Linked DNA regions of Homo sapiens: region 2 is linked to region 1. The links come from fine-mapping of genetic effects on gene expression. Tissue or cell type: blood mononuclear cells. Region 1 holds a variant in brackets; the other region holds the start of a gene. All regions are shown on one strand. Distances are from middle to middle.

Region 1 (5,228 bases):
TATACCTTTTTGTGCTCTTAAACAGCAGTTTTCAATCAGTATGGTTACTTGCATGCAAGACTGAAGGAAAGGATATAGTTTTAAAGCCAACAGACCTGTTGAATGAAAAAAAATTCCGTCTTACTTTAAGAAATTATTCATTGCTGAGCCCTGGACATTTTTATCTGGTTTAATACACTGCATAGATGTTTCTCTTTCTGTCCACATGCTTGTCTTTCCAGTCCTTTTAAAAAAATATTATATTTCAGTCCCTCTTGTGAGAGTTGAAAAACTGTCTTTGCCTACATGAACATAAAGTCCTGCTAAGGAAGATTGTGTTACTAAAAACAAAAGGGGCCAGACGTGGGGGCTCACATCTGTCATCCCAGCACTTTGGGAGGCCAAGGTGGGAAGACTGCACAAGCTCAGGAGTTTGAGACCAGCCTGGGCAACATAGCGAGACTCCGTCTATATAAAACAAAAACAAAAACAATTAGCTAGGCATGGTGGCTCATGCTTGTATTCCCAGCTGCTTGGGAGACTGAGGCAGGAGGACTGATTGAGCACAGGAGGTCAAGGCTGCAGTGAGCCATCATCACACCACTGCACTCCAGCCTGGGGACACAGCAAGACCTTATCTCAAAAAACAAAACAAAACAACAACCACAAACCAAACGGTAAGGGTAGGCGGGATGGGGATAAGAAGTGAGCTACCGATAGCTTTCATTTATTCTGTCCTTAGAATTCTGTCCTTAGATGATCTTTTCAAACAAAGTATTTCAAAATATGTATTCCAACAATAATTTCTTTCTTTCTTTCTTTCTTTTTTTTGAGACGGAGTCTCGCTCGTCACCCAGGCTGGAGTGCAGTGGCTCGATCTCCGCTCACTGCAAGCTCCGCCTCCCGGGTTCACAGGATTCTTCTGCCTCAGCCTCCCGAGTAGCTGGGACTACAGGCGCCCGCCACTACGCCCGGCTAATTTTTTGTATTTTTAGTAGAGACGGGGTTTCACCATGTTAGCCAGGATGGTCTCGATCTCCTGACCTCGTGATCTGCCCGCCTCGGCCTCCCAAAGTGCTGGGATTACAGGCGTGAGCCACCTCGCCCGGCCTCCAATAATAATTTCTAAAATCCAATGTGTATACAGGTTTTAAAAACATTTTTTAATGATTGGACCAAAATTTTGACTCCCTTTTTGTATTTTAATATGAGTTATCTATACAATAGTTCAAAGTTGGGACTAGAAAGTAATTAGTCTTTGACTATCTGGACTTTGGTCTTTCTCGTATCTGGGCTTCAATTTTCTCATTTGGAAAATGAAGATTGGATGAGTTGATTTTCTAAGGTCTATTTCTAATGGAGTTGAATGAAAAAGAAAAAGGCAACTTAGGATCTTTGATAACTGGAATAAAAGGAGGCACACGCTTTGAATTACACAGAGATGGATTTGAATCTCATATTTTATTAGCTGCTGGAAGTTAGATTTTATTTTACTTAGCTATAAAGTGGAACTAATTAGGAGCTGTACTGAGGGCTGCTGGGGTTTAAGTGGGAACAATCCTATAATGTTCCCAGGATAATATGTATGCACCTATAAATGGTAGGACCATATTAAGGTCAGACAAACGTAAGGCTGAGCACATGACTTGATCTAGTAATTTCCACTCTGGCACTTGGAGAAGAGAGTGAGCATATCACTGTTCCTTACCAGCAGAGATGTCCCTCTGCCGTGATGAAACTGGAGCTGTCATGATTTATAAAAAGAACACCATCAGGGCAAAGGCGCCACATCTTGGCAAGAAATGCTTCACATAGTTTCCATCGTCACTAAGCTCTCCTTCCCACCCCGCACCCTGCTTCTATTTAAATCCCAGGCACTCCACTGGACCACACTCATTTTAGCCAGTGTCCAGGCTATCAGCAGAGAAAGACAGGTGGGCAGCATGGCTCCGGGCGAAAAGGAAAGCGGGGAGGGCCCAGCCAAGAGCGCCCTCCGGAAGATACGCACAGCCACCCTGGTCATCAGCTTGGCCCGAGGTTGGCAGCAGTGGGCGAATGAGAACAGCATCAGGCAGGCCCAGGAGCCTACAGGCTGGCTGCCGGGAGGGACCCAGGACTCACCTCAAGCTCCTAAACCAATCACACCCCCTACTTCACACCAGAAAGCTCAGAGTGCCCCAAAGTCGCCACCCCGCCTGCCAGAAGGACATGGAGATGGACAAAGCTCAGAGAAAGCCCCTGAGGTTTCTCACATCAAAAAGAAAGAGGTGTCCAAAACGGTGGTCAGCAAGACTTATGAGAGAGGAGGGGACGTGAGCCACCTCAGCCACAGGTACGAGAGGGATGCTGGTGTGCTTGAACCTGGGCAGCCAGAGAATGACATTGACAGAATCCTCCACAGCCACGGCTCCCCAACGCGGAGGAGAAAATGTGCCAACCTGGTGTCTGAGCTAACCAAGGGCTGGAGAGTGATGGAGCAGGAGGAGCCCACATGGAGGAGTGACAGCGTAGACACAGAGGACAGCGGCTATGGAGGAGAGGCTGAGGAGAGGCCCGAGCAGGATGGAGTGCAGGTGGCTGTGGTCAGGATCAAGCGCCCCTTGCCCTCCCAGTAAGTGAATGCATTCTCCCACTCCTTGTGTCAGGATCACTATTGAGCCCCAACCAAGTCTGGGAATCCAGGCAGCAGATGAAGTCCTGCCAGGGTTAGAGTGAGAATCTCAAAGACTGGACAGGCAGTGAGTACTGTAGAGGAGGGATGTCCCTGGGCTGAAGGTCAGTGCCAACCTTAGACATGGACCTTTTGGTCAGGGCCTGCGCTATTTTGTTTCTCGTTTTTGTTTTGAACTGAACACTCAAGTCTTAGCCTCAACAAAGATGAAGCCATCAGAGAGGGAAGCCTGTTTTTCGTGAATTCTTTAAGTCAGTTCTATAATGAGTAACAAATTGGCTTATTTCTTTAGAGATAAGAGTGGTTTCTGATAGACTCATTGGGGAAACTTTTACCTTGTCCCAAATGTCTATGCTATTATCAGGAGATACGTCTGCTTCAATAACACCCATGGAATACAAATCTCTGACTCTAAACAGGTGGAGGCTGCTGTCTAATTTGAAAGCAGGCTCTGAATGAAGTCAGACAGACCCAAGTTCAAATCCTAGTTCTGCCCCTAACTAGTCATTTTTAAAGGTGATTTCATCAGCTGGGCGCAGTGGCTCAGCCTGTAATCTCAGCACTTTGGGAGGCTGAGGAGGGCGGATCACTTGAGGCCAGGAGTTTGAGACCAGCCTGACCAACATTGGTGAAACCCCATATCTACCAAAAAAC[A/T]CACAAAAATAGCTAGGCACAGTGTTGTGCATCTGTAATCCCAGCTACCCGGGAGGCTGAGGCATGAGAATGGCTTTAACCCATGAGGCTGATGTCGGAGTGAGCCAAGATCATGCCACTGTACTCCAGCCTGGGCAACACAGCAAGACTCTGTTTCACATAAAAATTAAAAAAAGCAGATTTCCTCATTTGTAAAATGACAGCAACAGTAAGCTTTTGGGAGAAGTTCTATTGTATTGGGAAACGTAAATGAGATTAGGGCTACCAAACACAGAGCTTGTCACATATGCTCAATACACGAAAACTATTATTATTCACATAGATTTGGTTACTTTGCAACTTTTCAAATTTTCAAAAACAGTTTGTCCTATTTGTAAACAAATACAGCAATAATTAAAATATCTAGATGGTAAATACACATACATACACTCACATACACATTTACTCAAACTGAAACATGTATATAGACAAGAAACACGTGCTTTATTTCAAGACAGTAACTCCACATGGTAGAAAGTCAGGATTTCTTATTCCACAATGCCAGGGTATCAAAATATAAGAAAAATGTCTGATGTCATTACATTTATAGACTGACTCCCTTTGGGGACAGTTTGATGTGCAAGTGTGTTTTTCAAGTCTTATGAAACAATAAGAAAATAAAGAAAAAAATTGTTACCTAATTTGACAAAAAGCTGTTCCTTTTTTTTTTTTTTTGAGATGAAGTCTCACTCTGTTGCCCAGGCTGGAGTACAGTGGCACGACCTCGGCTCACTGCAACCTCCATCTCCTGAGTTCAAGTGATTCTCCTGCCTCAGCCTCCTGAATAGCTGGGATTACAGGTGCACACCACCACGCCCAGCTAATTTTTGTATTTTTAGTAGAGATGGGGTTTCACCATGTTAGCCAGGCTGGTCTCGAACTCCTGACCTCAGGTGATCCACCCACCTCGGCCTCCCAAAGTCCTGGGATGCATGAGCCACCGCACGCGGCCTAAAGAGCTGTCTTATAGTTTGAGACTGTAAAGGTGTTTTGAAAGAATTAGAACTACTACACTGCCAGCTCTCAAGAAAAATAAAATGGCAAATGGGTAATTACAATAATCTGTCACGTGTTCAGTGTGTGCTGTAGGTGTTTAAATGCTTTGTCGCTTCACTTCTCATAATCCTTTGAGTAGCTATTCACTCATTTCAGGGATAAGAACACCAAAGCTCAGAGGGGAAGTTTGCCCAGCAAATTAGTGACAAAGCTAAGACGTGCCCTACTCCAAATGCAATGTTTTAAAACCAGACATGGTTCCAACCTTCATGCAGTGTCTTGAGGATGCATTCAGAGGTCTGGATTTGTGCTTAATGTAGGAGTTCATGATCAGAAGTAACTATGCTATCCGAACATGAGGAACCATATTCCAAACTCTGGCCTTTTGGATCTTGGGACATGTGTGCTAGAAATGGAATAACGGGGTCCAAAAGAATAAAGACTGAGGGGGCACAATGACAAGATCTTTCTCTCAGCACATTTTAAATTAACTAGAAGTAAGGAGGTGACAGCTGGGACCGATCCTGAATGCATAGTAGAGCTAGACATTCTTTGGCACTTGTCTAAGCACTTTTCATATATTTATTTATTTAATCCCACAATATCCTCATATGATAGGTTATAATCATCATCCCTCTTTGATAGATGGAGAAAGGAGATGAAGAAATATTAGGGAATTTGTATGAGATTTTACAGCCCATGAAATTTGAACTCAGTCATTCTGGCTCTGAGTAAACTGTCTCACCTAAAAGTGGGGAGTGGGATACAGGACCCATCTTGGGGTTCCCCAAATCAGGCTGGCACATGGGCACCTTCTTAATGTGTTGAAATGCCTACGCTTGGAATAAGAGACAATTAGATTTGAATCATGGTTACTTTGGTAATCCTG
Region 2 (5,228 bases), 500 kb after region 1:
ATGACTGAAAAAAATCATAGCCATAAAAGCCAATAATGACAGCAGAAGTCTTTTTATTCAAATCTCCCACCTTACAGATGTCCAGAATAATCAACATATTTCAAAGGGTATATTTCAAAAACGTACTAGCAACTCAGCCAGCCACTGTCACATGGAATAAGAAGACATGCCCTGGCCATTAGAACCATGCTGTCCTCGCTCTTGTGTCCCTCCACGGGACAGACATCACCTTGCAAGACAACTCGTGCCACTGTCCCCAACAGTTTTCCACAGAGTTCTTGTTTCCCTTCATCTGAATCTTCTCTGTGCAATTTGATGTCCTGAACTATTTCTGACGGTTGCACACAAGATCTCAGGGACTGGACCTTTTAGTTATGAGACCAGCCCTCTTAGACAGCAGACAGTAGGTACAGTGCTTGCTCTCCCTTCTTTGCATCCTTCCAGAGTTGCCTTCATCCTCATTTCCTGCATCTGGTAAAGTCTCTCTGAAAATGTGAAACCGACGACAGAACATGGCAAGCTGGATGGAGAAGCCGACAACCCCTCCCCCACTCTCACCCAACGCCGGGCCGGTCCTGTTTCGGATCCTGCACACTGTGGAAGCTTCTTGCTTCCTTGTTTTGGTGGGTGAAATCTTTGCTGTTCAAAAAGGTGTTTTTGCACAGAAATTTTAGGACGTGTTTATTCTAGTAACGTAGTGTTTTCTTTTTTCGCTATATTTACATGTGGAGAACTCCAGGGAGGCCCCCACCAGAGATCCCTTAAATGCTGGTCTCTGTCCCTGCTTCTCGGCCCCGCTGGCCTTTTGGAGCCATCGTGCTTCCCAGTCCGCAGGCAACAATCACAGCATCACCTGCAAGGGGCAGCAAAGTGAACCGCGGACCCCTGGAGTGACGCCTTGGAGATGGACCCTTTGGATTTGGGAACCCCTCTGACGGCCGGGACTCCCAGGATTCCCTTCCATAGAGGGAGTCCACGGTGGTCGCAGCCGGCGGCTGAGTCCTCCTTAGAGTGCCGAATCAGAGAAGACCCGCATCAGGTTTGGGATGTAAGTGGAGAGGGAGAGGTTAGAAAGAGGCATCATTGGATAAGCAAAGAATGCTACCCTGGGAAAAGGAGGCAGAAAAGACGTAGGGAAGTATGTTCCCCTTAATCCCTTCCCCGTGCCGCCCGTAGATCCCTGGATCTTCTTGTCACGGAGACAGGCTGCAGCCACACACGCGACCCCGGGCCGGAAACATGCACACGCGCGCGCACACACGCACACACACGCCCCGCTGCGAGTTGCACGCTGCAGACTTCTGCCTGACTTCCCGGCCAAAAACACCGCACCTCTGGGGCCAGACCACGAATTCCTGTGGCCTAGAACTGACACCACTCCCCCTACCCCCGCAATACACACATTCAGACCCTACACTGCACCCTGAGCGTGCCGGGAACCACTGAACGGAAGCCCGAGCAGCTCCCCCCGTAAACGACTACCTTCCCCACTGCCTAATGTCTATTTAAATCTCCTAAAGCTCGCCTACAGCGAGCCGAGGTGCGTCCAAGCCGGGTAGTAGACGGAGGAGGAGCCAGGGGTGAAAGTGAACCTCAGATAACAGTACTAAATCACTATTCAAGGGGCGGCACGGGGAAGCCTCCAACCCTCTCCTGAACCTTTCAGGCCCTACCAGCAGCCCAGTTCCTCCGCCCGATACTGCACAGCTCCCCCCCTCTTCACCCAAATCCCTCAGCGATTTTCCAGTCGGCCCTCCAGGCCACTTTCTACATCCATCCTTTCCCCAGCCAGTTCCCAACATGTGGCCTCGGGTACTCTAGCGGGAGACAGATTCCAGGCTGACTCCATCATGATGTGCCCCCTAGCCTTTTACTGATTCCCCAAATTATCCGAATCCACTCGCCCCTCCGGAGCCCACTGTCCCTTCCACCGGCGTCCTTTGCTCTCGTCCAAATCCGCTTTCCACGCGCCCCACTTTCCACCCATCCTCCTGCCGTTCTGTTCAAGACACGCTTGCCCTCCACTCTGCGCCCCCAACACTGCTCTCACGCTGCTCCCACTCTATCCCCCGGCGACACCCCCACTTTCCTTCTGCGGCTGTCCCTGGCCGGGCTCCCGCGCCCCAAACCCAGCCTCCCCGCCCGGTCTCCTCCCTCGCCGCCCGGTCTCCTCCCTCGCCGCGCGGTCTTTCCTTCTTCCCAAGTCCGCCCTCTGGGCCCCCGCTGGAGCTAGTTCTGCCCTCCTGCTCTGCCCGTCGTCCCCGCTCGAGCATCCCAATGGCCACCCGCTTTCAAATTGGCTAAGTGGCTCGGAGAGGCGCCAGGCACAGGGGGCAGAGGCCAGCCGGCTCTCCCGGGCGCCAGCCGCGCCTCTCGCTATCCCTCCTGGACTCCCCCGGGCGCCAAGCCCTCGCCCTAACGCCCAGCAGCCTCACAAACTTACTTGCGGGTCGCCAGGAGGGGGCTGCGGTGAGCGGCGGCGGGCCCCGCGGCGGCGAGTGCGCCCCTCTCGGCGGGGCTGGGCGGCGCGGCGCCGGCGCTGAGCTCCTGTGGCCGCGAGGTGAATGGGCTCAGCCTGACGCAGCCCAGCTCTAGCCCCGCTGCTGCCGGCGCCGCTGAGCGCTTGCAGACATGCTCAGTTTCCGGACCTGCCCGCGTGGAAGCTACCAAGAGCCGGCAGCGGCGGGGGAGACTGAGAGGAGCCGTGGGGCGCCGCGAGCCGGAGGCTACCACGCCGGGGGCGGGGGGAGGCACGCACCGCTAAAAATAGCTCCTGCGGAAGCCACGCTGGCTTAGCGCGCACCCCTCCCCGCGCGCGGCCCCTCTGGCTGGGGTTCGGGTTTCTGCTCTGGCTACCGCGGTGGGGACCCCAGCTCGCCGAGTCCTGCCAGGCGTCTGCCTGCACTAGGATCCCCATCCCGGTGGAGACGGCGCCTCCAGTTCAGGCGCCCACTCGAATAGCCTGGACTAAGCCAGAGCTGCCCCGATTTCGGGGTCCCGCCTGTCGGGCAGCTCTAATACTAGGCTCTCCCTAGAGAAGCAGAGGAAAGTTTTGTTAAAGCGATAAAAAAGCTTCTGCAAGGAAAGCTGCAAGGAAATTTGTTCAGATTTACGGAGGAAAAAAATGTTCTTCAGATGCTTTGGTTGCTGGGAAAAACAAGGAGGAAAGGAAGGCGAAGTCTGACAGCCTAGAAAGGGACCCAAGGCAGCTTGGAGCGGGCTGAAGGGGGTTCTGCAAAGAGCTTCTAAAATTCAGAATTCTTTGCAAGGCGTTTGTGACTCCTCATTCCGCAGTGTTTTGCATAATTCGTTGACACCCCACCCTGACCTTGGAGATTTTCTTGTTCCTGTCACCTGAACTGTAATTTACTTTCTCCGCATGCTGCCTTCACTCCTTCCCCCTCCAACCCGGTTTTAAATTGCAAAACGAAAAGGGCGCAAACTCTGGATGGGTAGATTCCCAGACCTGAACTGGAACCTGGCTGTTCTGTAACCCTGAGGAAAGGAGCTGGTCCTGTTGCCGAGTTCGGGATGTATCCCAGATCTCCTGTGCATCCAGCAAACACTTCAAGCGTAGGAGCCTTTCAGCCACCTCACCTGCAAATTAGCTATTTCCCGCTATTAGTGTTCACTCTATTCTACCTTAATTTCTGATCATTTATTATTATTTTTTAATTCTGTTCTTTAAAGTAAGAGGTACAGATATTTCCTGGGTCAAATTTCCGTCTTGTTTCACTCACCTCTCACAGCCACCCAATGAGAGAATCATTATTATTCCCATTTGACAGACAGGGATGTTGAAATTTAGCGACAGGAGCTCATCGCTTGTCTGGAATAATAGAGTGTTGAACCTAGGGTCGGCCAGACTAGAAACTTTCATGGTTTCCGCATAACCTATTTCCCCGAGTCAATAGCTTTACCTGAGATAAGGGATCAAGAAAATTAGATACTATTCTGAGTGGCGTGGCGTGTCAACAGTAAGCCGATTGATAAGCCGATTGCGGGTTTTGTTCTCCATTATTTTTACCTAATTTCTTTACGAGCATTCGCAGCTTAAATTTTCTGTTATGTTGAAACTGATAGCGTTTAATTTTTATTCTATCAGAAAGATTTTACTGAGAATCTTCTACAAGCAATGTATAGACTAGGTATGTATTTTATAATTATCTCAGTTCAGACTCTGTGATAAAGCTACTTTGTTTTCCCAGTATTATAAATTAGTTAGACTTTGCTAACCCTACTAAGTAATGTACATGTGATTTTTTCATAGAACTGTAGTGGAATCTGTCTATTTGGGTCAAGATGTCCTCCCTCCTAAGATATTTGCGCCCTTCCATCCCCACTTGCAATTTAGTGCCATGTGCACCCCAAAATAAGTAATCAATTAAGGTTTGATCTTTTACTTTTTTACTGAAGCTGCAAATATTATCTGCAGGACCAGGGCCACTTTATAATGACAACATCATGTTTCTAATTTTCCATAGGTGATTCATTGGGAGATCAAAATGTGAATTTCCTTAGACTATCAACACAAATCATTCCTTTCTATCAGTGGTGAAGGAAGGTGAAAAATAAACTTTACTTTCATCCTGGTTGCTTTCATTCTTCCTCTTTCAGTAATTATTCTTAAGGTGGTATGGCACTCTGAACATCTTCATGCTACAGCATGCACACTACCCATAATCATGAAACAGGGAAAATCTTGATTTCAAAGTCTCTTTGGTGTCCTATGGAAAAGTGTAGCTCAAAAACGTACTGCATTGAGGACTCGAAGTAACAAGTGACAGGGATGCAATTCTAACTTAGGCAGAGAAAATGCATTGACCCGTGTAACTCAGAAGTACTAGAAATAGCAGGGCTTGTCCTGGGCTTAACAACATTAGGAAGAATATGATTTTCTCTTTCTCTAACTTGCTTTCGGCATTGCTTCCTGTGTTGGTTTCATTCCCCTCACATTATGTCCATAGTGCCAGCCCTACACAGTTGACAAATTTTGTAACCTTACAAAGAAATCAAGTCTCTTGTTCTGTTGAGCAGATCAATCTTTGAAGGTGTACTCTTATTGGCTGTCCTGGCTCACACAATCAACCACCTGCATCCTCTTGGGGATGAAAGATTCTCAAAAGGGAAAAAAGTATTTGGTTAGCAAAAGAAGGAATAGGGGATGTTTGCAAGATGGAAATAATGGATAACCAGTAAACTCATAGACTGGCCTGTTTCCCCATGGA

The links. PIP is the estimated chance that this variant, and not a neighbour inherited with it, causes the effect.
Region 2: it holds the start of OXR1, and the variant in region 1 is fine-mapped to the expression of OXR1 in blood mononuclear cells (TOPMed, PIP above 0.99).

Annotation. Positions count from the first base shown.
Region 1 is chr8:106,766,885-106,772,112 of GRCh38, reverse strand. ABRA (actin binding Rho activating protein) reads left to right here and starts at 1,869. Exons shown (of 2, transcript NM_139166.5): 1 at 1,869-2,590. The coding sequence starts at 1,923. The variant A/T (reference allele first, on the strand shown) is at 3,305.
Region 2 is chr8:106,267,583-106,272,810 of GRCh38, reverse strand. It overlaps OXR1 (oxidation resistance 1), which reads right to left and starts at 2,621. Exons shown (of 17, transcript NM_001198533.2): 1 at 2,444-2,621. RefSeq lists silencers at 2,267-2,626, 2,647-2,896.